Homo sapiens: one gene and its partners. The protein of the gene in region 1 purifies or fractionates together with the protein of each later gene. This does not show direct contact. Each region holds a gene or a part of one and is shown on either strand. Other genes may lie near its edges. The genes, in order: ZNF543, NKTR and FRMD6.

What was found.
Region 2: the proteins of ZNF543 (region 1) and NKTR purify together in Homo sapiens (affinity purification with mass spectrometry; one large-scale study listed by BioGRID and IntAct). This does not show direct contact.
Region 3: the proteins of ZNF543 (region 1) and FRMD6 purify together in Homo sapiens (affinity purification with mass spectrometry; one large-scale study listed by BioGRID and IntAct). This does not show direct contact.

What each region holds. Positions count from the first base shown.
Region 1 is NC_000019.10:57,319,241-57,323,380, forward strand, and holds the start of ZNF543 (zinc finger protein 543), read left to right. Parts: upstream 1-1,231; 5' UTR 1,232-1,613; coding exon 1,614-1,631; intron 1,632-4,140. UniProt on the Homo sapiens protein: May be involved in transcriptional regulation.
Region 2 is NC_000003.12:42,642,156-42,645,807, forward strand, and holds part of NKTR (NK-tumor recognition protein), read left to right. Parts: intron 1-345; coding exon 346-441; intron 442-1,183; coding exon 1,184-1,240; intron 1,241-1,743; coding exon of another isoform or gene 1,744-1,746; coding exon 1,747-1,848; intron 1,849-3,652. UniProt on the Homo sapiens protein: PPIase that catalyzes the cis-trans isomerization of proline imidic peptide bonds in oligopeptides and may therefore assist protein folding. Component of a putative tumor-recognition complex involved in the function of NK cells.
Region 3 is NC_000014.9:51,658,268-51,661,919, forward strand, and holds part of FRMD6 (FERM domain-containing protein 6), read left to right. Parts: intron 1-3,652.

The DNA of each region.
Region 1 (4,140 bases):
TATACATATATACATATACATACATATATATACATATATATACATATACATACATATATATACATATATATACATATACATACATATATATACATATACATACATATATATACATATATATACATATACATACATATATACACATATATATACATATACATACATATATACATATATATACATATACATACATATATACATATATATACATATACATACATATATACATATACATACATATATATACATATATACATATACATACATATATATACATATATATATCGCATTTTCTTTATCCAATCATCTGTCGATGGACACTTAGGTTGATTCTATGACTTTGCTACTGTGAATAGTGCTACAGTAAGCATGTAAGTACAGGCATCTTTTTGATATAGTGGTTTATTTTCCTTTAAGTAAATACCCAATAGTGGAATTGCCAGATCAAATGGCAGTTCTATTTTCAGTTCTTTGATAAATCTCCATACTGTTTTCCATAGAGGTTGTACTAATTTACATTCCCACCAATAGCATATAAGCGTTCCCTTTTCCTTGCATCCATACCAACATCTGTTGGTTTTTTACTTTTTAATAATAGCCACTCTGACCAGTATAAGATGGCATCTCAGTGTGTTTATGTGTGTGTGTTTTCTCTCATCATATCTCATTATAACCTCAAATTCCTGGGCTCAAGCAATCCTCTTGCTTCAGCCTCCCAGTGTCTAGGACTACAGGTGTACACCATCATGCCTTGCTCTTTTTTTTTTTTTTGGTAGATATAACATCTTACTATATTGCCCAGGGTGGTCTCAAACTCCTGACCTCAGCAATTATTTTGTGTTGGCATCCCAAAGCACTGAGATTACATATATGAGCTACCTCCCTAAAATAAGGGAAGTGAGCCAGAAGCTCTGGGCCCAGCCCATGATCTCAATCGGGGCGAATATCCCCGCCTCCTGACCTCAATTTTCCTAAGCTAGAAAGGACCTTTCGACCCTCCGACTTGTGCCCATAGTAAAGCGGCGGCCCTAAGACGACGCGGGGGTCCTTGTGCGCACTTAAATGGAGTCGGCTGCGCTTGGTGAGTTCCCACACCCGGTAGATGTGAGGGAAAAACTGCCTTACTCAGAAGGCACCACCCCTTGCGTCGGCCGCGGACTCTAGGCCAATGACGGGCCAGGACACGGGCGATTTCTGCGGGCCAGGGCGGCGGAGGTGGGACTTCCGCTTCGTCGCGTGACGTCATCTCCGTGAGCAGGATTGGCCCTGGAACAGTGTGGGGCCTGGACCGCTGGGTAGGCGCGTCCAGCGGCCTGAGCAGGGGAGGGTAATGAGGCTGTTACGCGCCTTCTCCGCATCTTGGCGGGAGCCTGACGCCCCGCTTCTTCCCTAACGGGGTGTTCCACCGGCGCCTGCCGAGGCCTAGGCCTCCGCAGCCGCCCTCCGTCTCCTCAGCCCCGACGCTGCGCCCGCTTTGTGCGCATTTTTCTCTGGGGAAACTGAGGCTCCGAGTGCGAAAGTCAGCCGAGGTCGCCCCGCCCAGGACAGAGAAGGGCTGGGGGTCGGCTGAGCCGCGGCATTCCCGGGCCCCGCTAGGGCTGCAGGGTCTCAGGATGGCAGCCTCGGCGCAGGTGAGTGGACGAGGTTTTGGCCTTGCTGCTGCTCTGCTACTTCTGGAGGCCTCGTGGGCAGGCAGAAGCCAAGACAGCCACAGGATGTTTCTTTGTCGCCGTCGTTTATTTAAGAGAAGTGGCCGTAGCTTGTCATTTCCTTTATCCGCAGTCCTGCAATAGTGTTGGCCTCCGACAGGTGCTCAGTCCTTGGTAGAAGGATGAATGATGCTTCCTTCATGGATCTCATCACACTTCCCTTAAATCCAACCTCCTCTGTTGCCTGCCAGCCCCTACCCCATCCACCTGGCCAACCACCCCTGACCTTGTCTCTCCATTTTTCCCTTGTCCTTTGCTCTTCAGAGCCACCAACCTGACCGTGCAGTCTTCTTCCTTTTTCCAGGCTTTCTCTTTGCACTTCCCTTTGCCTTGAACACTGCCCCTATAACTTCGCAGGGCCTCCCTCTCATATCTTTCTGGCCTCTGTCCAGATGTCACCTATTTGGAGGTGGCTTTCTTGGCAATTCCGGCTAAAGTGGCGCCTTACGCACTTGCCCATTTTTGGCAATGTGTGGCATTTTTGTATAGAGAATCTGACGATATTAAAGAAGCTTGCCGTTTGAGTTGGTCTAGGATGTTATGTGAACAAAGAGAAACGAAATAATTGCAAAGAGTGACAGCTGATCATAAAGAGTCCTTGCTGTGGGCTGATTGGCAGGCATTATTTAACCCTCAGCTCCTTTAATCCTGAACTCCTTAGAATTAGGTTCTCTTGTCCTCACTGTTTTACACAAGAGCAGCTGGAGGCTCACATAGGTTCAATTACCTGCCTTACATCACTGTAGCTCTTAAGTATCAGAAACTAACAACTGGTGTGTCTACCATCACAGCCTGTGTTTTTACCCTCTTCTTTGCCCGCAATGGTTAGGGAGGCCTGGGGGTGACACCTAAAGTAAACTTTGCAAGTTGAGCAGGCTTCCTTCTAGCAGGTGGTCTTGGACATGAGGAGTCATGGCATTTCATGCTGGTGGAACTGTGTGGACTAAAAAAAAATGGTTTATTGGTTGTTTAAGGAGTCCGCAGGGGACCCGTGTGGCTTCCACAGTGGTTTCCTGAGTGGTTTTCTCCTATACCAGCTGACACATGTCTTGGGACACAAGATTTTGTGGTCTTTTGCTAGATGTGCCTTCCTCCTTAGCCAGGACAGACATAGCCAGTCAGGGGCCCATGTTCTCATGGCTACAACCTGCTGTGTCCTCTGTGACTCTTGTTCCTTGCTCCTGAAGTATCCTGACCTCAGGGATACTTGTTGGTAGGACTCAAACAGGAAAAGGTAGTGATAGCTCGTTGTGGATTCTTCCTATGAGAATGGGCATCTGTGAGGCCCAGAAGTGTCCGAGGCAGCAGATGCAGGTCCAGGCCCTGCCACTTTTGAGGCAGGTGCCACCACCTCAGGTGACTCTTCTGTGAGGTAGGTGATTATGACTATGCTGCTCTGCCCAGGTCCATGAAAATATTTCAAGTGGCTAACCCCAGCACAGTGGCATGTGTCTGTATATCCAGCTTGGGAGGCTAAGGCAGGAGGATCATGAGTTCAAGCCCAACCTGGGCAAAATATTGAGACCCTGTCTCAAAAAAAAAAAAAAAAATCCTGAAAATATTTTCAGGGTGGCTCAAATGGATGTATTTCAATGTTTCCCATCCTCATTAACTGTGCATTAACTTTGCTAATGAAGGAGTGTCGGGTTGCATGATTAGAACATAGACCATAGGGCCCTGGGTTCAAATTCTGTCTCTCCTGATAAGAGATGTGACTTTGGGTAGACTAGTGGAGGTCCTGGACCTCAAGTCTCTGAGTGTGACATGGAGATGATGATGGTGAACTCAGGAGCTGTGGCCCTTTGCCCCAGTGTTTCCTTTACAGCTTTTCTTCAGATCTTTTGACTATTCTTGGTGAAGTGGAAAACCCTGTTGTGTTGACCTGGACATCAGGGCTCAGATAAATGAAATGAGATTTCCAAGGTCACATAGCAGGCTTGTGTTGATTTCAGGAATTTGGTTTTAAACCTCAGGAGTCTGACTCCTGAGCTGGGGACTTTTAGTCACTTTACCATGGCATGTAAAGCCATTAGCATGAGGCAGGCTCACAGGGAGGATCGGTAAGACTCAGGTGCTGTTCTTGTTGTTGTTGCTGGTGTTGTTTTTGTTATTATTCTTTCCCATTCCTCTGATGTCTCAGAGCACTTACTGTCTTGCCTCTCAGTCCCCTTAGGATTGTCCTAACCTTATTTCTGTGTGAAGTGGCTTTCTGCATAGGAGGCTTCTCTCTCTTCACTGCTGTAATTTTTTTTTTTTTTTTTGAGACGAGTCTCGCTCTGTCACCCAGGCTGGAGTACAGTGGCACGATCTCGGCTCACTGCAAGCTCCGCCTCCCGGGTTCACGCCATTCTCCTGCCTCAGCCTCCCGAGTAGCTGGGAATACAGGCGCCCGCCACCGCGCCCGGCTAATTTTTTTGTATTTTTAGCAGAG
Region 2 (3,652 bases), on another chromosome or scaffold:
AGAATATTTCGTTATATATCTCTACCTTAATGTTTTTTTAACCCATTCTACCATTAGTGGAGATTTGGTTTATTTTCTTCTCAGTGTTATTGGTGTTATAAATCAGGCTTCTATGAACATACTTGTGCCAATCTTTTCTTGTTTTTCTTTATTTTCTTCTGTTTGATTTTAACCATGGTTGTTTTGAGAGTTCCTCATTAGCTGACACTGTCATATCCACTGTGAGGAGTTTGTGAGAGGCCTTTCTTCTTGTTGTGTTTTCCCCTTTCTGCCCTACCAGTAATTAATTTTAATATCATGATGAGTCAACATAATTATATATTTTTTCAATTGCTTTAATTGTAGATCAAGAAGCTACTCTAGAAGTCGGAGCAGAGGATGGTACAGCAGAGGCCGAACCAGAAGCCGGAGCAGTTCCTACCGGAGTTACAAAAGTCACAGGTGAGCTTGTGATCTCACCCTGTGATGTGGTCTCCATCATGTCCACTTTTTAAGGCTACATAGGCAGAGGGGGTAGTTGTTGAGAAGAATCATGTCATTACTGAATATACTACTGGCCTATTTTCTCATGTAGTTTTTTCTATGTAAGAGCTGTGGAATTCTTGACTATTCCTCTGTTGGGATCTTATCAGAGTGAGGCAAGAGGAGCAGTAGAAATATTTAAGAAGCCTTGACCCCTACCTCCACCTCCCCCACATGCATCTTCCTTAACCTAAGTTTTACATCTGCATTCACCTCTTGACATGGGTTAGAGATTGGGATAGGAAGATTGTAGAGAGGGGACCAAGAGGAAGAAGTATATATATGGTGGGAAGGGTGGCCCCAGATTTCTAGTTCTCCTAGCTTCTTTCCCTCTTTTGCATCTGAGGTATTTTCTACTGCTGTCACTTCACTTTACTTACAAAGGTCCTACCTGTACAGACCTTTCCCCTAACTCCACCCAGTTTAGAGCCTCCCTAGTGACTATATGCATCTCAGAGAAGAACTGCATAAAACTTGATCTTATGAAATCCAATAGGCTTTTTAAAAAATCCAATATACTTTTGATATGAAAACAAAACAAATGTAGCTGTGGGATTTCACTGTATTTTCACCTTGATGGGCAAATAAATGTCTAGATATTTGGTATAGCCTGTCCTGCCCTGATCTATAAGATGATGGTCCTTCATGTGATTAATATTAGGACGTCCAGCAGGAGCAGATCCAGGAGCAGCTCATATGATCCCCACAGTCGATCCAGGTATGAACAGGGATTGGGAAACCACCAGTGGGGCAGAACTGAAAGATCTTGTTTTGTAAACTGTTTGTTCAAAGTGGTATTTTATTGAGTAACTAAATGCATATATTTGTCTCCTGAAACCATACCTTTTCTAAATGAGGTCTGTTCGACAAGTTTTATCTGTTGGCCCATTGTACTCCAGTGTCAAAAATGACAATATCAAATTGTAATGGCAGGTGTTTATTGAATATAATTGCCTACAGAGATCCACCAGGTTCAAACTAACTCGTTAACTTTGTGATATTTTTCAATGCAGAAAAGAAATTAACATTTTTCTCTTTAATTATGGTAAGTCTCATTTGGGGCAATTGTTAAATGTTTCCAGTACTTGTTTTGGAAATATATCCTCATGCTGTCACCTAGTGCCCATGTTCTAAGCTAGAACACTCCTGAGATCCTAAAAAGAAATAGGAACATATGAGTATCTGAGTGGGAAAATTTAGTGTTTGTTGTTGCCGTTAAAGCAGGTCCTACACCTACGATAGCTACTATAGCAGGAGTCGGAGTCGAAGTAGAAGCCAGAGAAGTGACAGTTACCACCGAGGCAGAAGTTATAATCGGCGGTCCAGGTGGGTCTCTCTCCTTTATCGTCCTTTATCGCACTGTAGGCCACGGTGGGCACTTGATGTGGGAGGGTGATGGGCTGCTAGTGGAAGAGAAAGTGGTATAATCTTCCAAGGACAGAAATACTTCTTCCTTTAAATCTGAACAACCCACAAGCAGCCACTAAAAGTGGCTTTTATATTAAGAGTTGCCAGGTAATATTTGTTGGTTATTATTAATGTTTGAATCTAAAATGGGTTTCTAAATATTCACATATCTTGGACAGACCTTTCTTTTGGAAAGAAAGAAGGCCACCCAAACCATGGCCACTTGCTTAAATAGAACCACTTGCTAGCAGTAGCCAGTTTCTCATTTTTTTTAAATAAAAAAATACATAATATAATTTGCTTCAGCAGCAGGATTGAGGTTTATATGTTGTCAATTATTTAGTAAAATACATTTTTTATGTATTATATGTATTATGTTTAACATATTTTGGCTTCTGCAAAAGTCTTTATGTTAACTTTTGTACTGTCCTTTTCTGGTGGCTTCTGGTCTTGCCTTCCCCTGTCCATTGCAACTGCAATGATGCTTGTAAATATCAGTCTGATCTGGATACTCCCTTGCTTGAAACTCTTCAAGGACTCCCTGCTGCTTTCATGATCAGGTCCAGCCTCCTCAGCACCAACTCCAGCTCACACTCTTTCTGGCTTCCCTCCTTTAAAGTGTTGGGACTTTTCCTTCTGCCTGGAGACACACGTGTCCTCTTCACCATCTCCCCTTTTGCCACTTGAAATGGCCAGTTCCCATCTACCCTGCAGATCTCCACTGTCCCTGGGCAGCCCTCCCTGATGCCTAATCCTAGGATACAGTCCCTCCCATGTGCCTCTAAGACAGCCCTTTGCTCCTACTGTGGCTCCCCTTGCTCCTAAATTACTTGTCTTGCTGACTATTCTATTCTGTCCTTGAACCCCAGAGAACTATACTTGGTTTTGTGTCTTTGTGTGTGTGTGTGTGTGTTCCCAGCATCTTGCAAAATGCCTGGCTCACAGTGAATGTTTTTCAAAATAACTGAATGGGACCCATGACCAGGTCCTCTTGACTCAATATCCCAGTGGTCCTGTTCATGCCCAGGGCCACCCCCACCCCTCATTGGACCCCATTTTGGTTTCCATTCCTTGAGTGAAACTATTTGTGCACCTTTTCCCCATTACTTTTCTCAGGTAATCTATTCAAATATTGATACTCATTTTGGGTAATATGGGGAAACTATTCTGCTCATTGGTTTTTTGTTTTTGTGGTCCCAGCATTTGCATGAATGAATTTCACACAAATTTCCTAAGATGTGATGTTTCTTTATTTTATCTTAATCTTGACATTACTACAACTTGTCATTTAAAACAGCTTCAAAAAGTCCATAGTGTGAGTCGGGCACGGTGGCTCACGCCTGTAATCCCAGCACTTTGGGAGGCTGAGGCAGGTGGATCGTCTGAGGTCAGGAGTTGAAGACCAGCCTGGCCAACATAGTGAAACCCCGTCTCTACTAAATAAAAAAAATTAGCTGGGCGTGGTGGCGGGCACCTGTAATTGCAGCTACTAGGGAGGCTGAGGCAGGAGAATCACTTGAACCCGGGAGGTGGAGGTTGCAGTGAGTTGAGAGCATGCCGTTGCACTCCAACCTGGGCAAAAAGAGTGAAACTCCATCTCAAAAAGAAAAAGAAAAGTCCATGGTGTTGCCATAGTCAGTACCCTACCTCTGTGTTATGCTGCATCAATAGTGCATCAGTTATATGAGTGGCTTGAAAACACTATTGATGTTTTCAAGCCACT
Region 3 (3,652 bases), on another chromosome or scaffold:
CAGCCTGCTGTACCTCTGCCCTCCATACAGAGCTCTGTTGGGGCTTGCCTTTTCCCTTTTTTCTCTCTCTCTCTCACTTCTAGGGCTTCCTAATGAGACTTTGGGTTGTAAGTATCAAGTAGGAGATCTCTTGAGGTCCCTCTTGATTCACTCTTGTTGATCCATAAATGATCTAGGATGGACCCTAATTTCAAAGGACTGCTTTGTCAATATTTTTGGAATAATTCATCCTTAAGAAAATGTTTCAAAAATTCAGTTTTTGGACTTCTCCTGCCTTTATGCTTCTCCCTCTTTTCTCCCTTTTTGTGTCTTCCTTCCACCCCCATCCAGTTATCGTTTCTTAAAGATCCCTGGAAACATCCAATCTTTGTCTACTGAGAGCAGCAGTGAAATTCTGACGCTAAAATCTGTGGCAGTCTCCAGGAAGTACTTATTGTAAAACATAAGATTATGATTTCACTGAGAGATCTAACAGATAAAACAAAGTGCTTGCAAAGGAAAACTATTCATGTATACATTTTATTTTATGTTTCCCTAAAGAATAAAGGACAGTTTTATTACTTAAGAAAAGACTCAGAGCTTCAGCTTAAGCTCATTAAAAAGGTGAAGAGAAGTTAAAATTAGAGAATTTTATAAATATGTGGTATTTATATATCCTACCCGAATAAGATACTGCTTATCACAGCAAAAATTTAGCATATGTAATGTTAACAAGTAAAAAATATGCTGACCATAGGGCCACAGCTCTGACAAGTTGCTCATGAAATTACTACAGAATAGCGTAATCCGTATTGAAGACAGCATAGAAGAGGGATAGTAAAATATAATGATAGGAATGAGGTCTTCGAGATCAGTTCCCTGGGGCCCAAATCCAGACTCCAGTATTCTCCCATGTGTAACCTTGGGGAAGTTACTTAACTCTCTACACCTCTTTTTCCTCATCAGTAAAGTGGGAGATAGTTATAATAGCTATCCCACAGGATTGTTCTTATTTTTAAGTGAAATGGTACGTGTAAAACAAATGGCATGGTCTTTGATATATAATAAACGTCTTACGTGATGTTAGCTATTGCTGCTTAAGACAAAAAGAAGTGATGTATAAAAGGACTTATAGTTTTATTGGAGGTTCCCAAGCCTTCATTTATAAGCATTTCATGAGATTTAACTTTGTTTTTTGATGGCATTAAGCAGGCAACAAAACCTAGTATTTCTCAGTTACAGATACTGGCAAGTCTGTGTTGCTGCAGTAGGAGCAGCTGGCCTGTTGCACTGATTACTAATTGATCGAGTTATTTTTCTTAATTCTCTTCTAATTTCCAGCCGTCTCAGTCCTTCAGCTTCTGTCTGCTAGATAACTGTTTCTTTCCATATGTCAAAAAAGCCAGCCTGCAGATTTTTAAAATTCTCCTTACGGTGACTGATGTTGTGCAAAGTTCTTTTAAAGAGTACCACTGACTGGCCCATGTCTTTTGCTCATGTTCCCTGTATGGCTTCATGTGAGTACTTCTGAAGAAAGCCACTATTATTGATATAAAGCAGTTCTTTATTCCCAACCCCTAACCATTGGCACAGTTTATATAATGTGGGTCAGAACCATTTGTGATTTTCTGTTATGAGGGCCAGAGTTTGAGATTTTAAACCATTCATTCAAAGAAACTTAAGAAAGACACAGTTAAACACCTTAGAAAGATACATTTTCATCTAACTAGCCTAATTACGAGCTCAGCTAAAAAAGGTACAGGATCCTCTAGAAGAATCGTGCTGTATCATTCTGATCTGTTTGTTAAAGGGCGGGGGACCTAGTCCAGATAACCCAGTTCCCCGTTTTGATTGTGTGTGTAAAATCTTGAGCTTAGTAAACTTAGCACTTTAAAAATGTTCACTAAGTCCATCAAAAGCCAGGTTTTATGTCTTTATGAAGTATTCAGGACTGTGCTGAATACTTTGTGCAATTTCTGTCAATGTGTTTCATGTCTAGTTGGGGGAACAAAATACATGTGTTTGAAAAGATATTAGATGTTTCCAGATGAGTGTGAAGTTGAGCTTTCGTTTTAGGGTCCAAAATCAAGGATGATCACATAGGATGTTCCCAGCCTTCCTGGGGCCACTGGATTTATACTGGTTAGTGAAGTCAGGCTAAGATTTTTCTATCCTTCAAGCCCATAGAAAAGGGGCTTTTCTAGTAGCAACAGAATGTGCAAGATCTGGTAAAAATCTCAAATATTAAAAGACAACTATGAAATTAAAATTATTAAATGTTTAAATTCATGCATTCAATATAATGTATGCCTAGGATATGCCAGGCACTGGTCTAGGTCTGAGAGATGTCAGTGAATAAAATAAAGGAAAAAAAAAAAAAAAAAATTCTGCCTTCGTGGACCTTATATTCTATTAGGAGGCAATCAGCATAAGAAAATAAGTGTTGTAGTATTTTGGAAGGTAATAAGCCTGATGGGAAAAAGAAAAAGTAGAGCAGGCTAAGGGACAGTAGGAGTGCTGGGGGAGGGAGGCAGGGACTTTGCGATTTGGTGGAGTATAGTCAAGGTAGGCCTCACTGAGAAGAGGGCTTGAAGGAGGAAGAGAGCCACACAGAGCTAGCTGGGGGAAAAGTGTTGCAGCAGAGGGACTAGTGAAGGCATCAGGCGGAAGCATGCCTGATGTGTTCCAGGAGCAGGGAGAAGGCCACAGTGGTGGAGCACTGAGAGCAGGGAGAGAAGGAGTAGTAGATAAGGTTAGAGATGTTTGGAGAGCACATGTTTGGCTTGTGTGGACTGTATTCAGGACTTGACTGTGAGTGGAATGGGGAGCCAGGTTTTGTGCAGAGGAGTGAGAGGATTTGATTTGCATTTTAATAGAATCACTGGTTGCTGTAGGAATCTGGAATTTAGGGAAGAGGTCTAAGTTGGAGATACAAATTTGGAAGTTGCCAACAGAATTTGGGTGAGATCACTTGGGGAATATGTGTAGTCAGAGAAACAGGCTTATGGACCAAGCCTTGGGGCATATCAGTATTTACAGTTTGTAGAGAGAAGAAGAAATCACACACATAATCCAAGAAGTGTTTTAAGCCAAAGTAATTATGCACGTTTTTCCAACATAGTGAACCCAATTAAGTGTCTCCATTCCTTGAGTAACAATGTTATCACTAGAAGATATTGTGAACTCTATTGATCTACACAATGGAAGAATGAACTATGAGTTGTTTTTCTAATTGCGTTGATGGTCTTGGGCTAAACCTGGATGCTTCATCTTTTAGAGGTTGTGTTGATAAGGAGGAATCAGTAAAAGAAAATTAAAAAGGAGCAAGCAGAGGATAGGAAGAAAATTAGAAAAATGTCCTTGTAGTCAAAGAAAATATCTCCAGCAGAAGAGTGGATCAGTTAGCTCACATGTTGCTGAGAAGTCAAGCAGGGTGAAGACTGAGAGTTGCTCATTGGATTTAGCAACCTGGGGAGTCATTGGTGATGATGACAAGAGCTGTGTCACTGGAGAAGTGGAGATGAAAACCTTATTGGAGTGGGTTCAAAGAGAATAAAAAATTTATGAAAGATAACTATTACTTGTAATTCAGTTTTGTATATTACAAATATTCAATATTGATGTGGGTACATTTTAATATGCCTGGTAGGATGTGCAGTGGGACTTTGGAAAT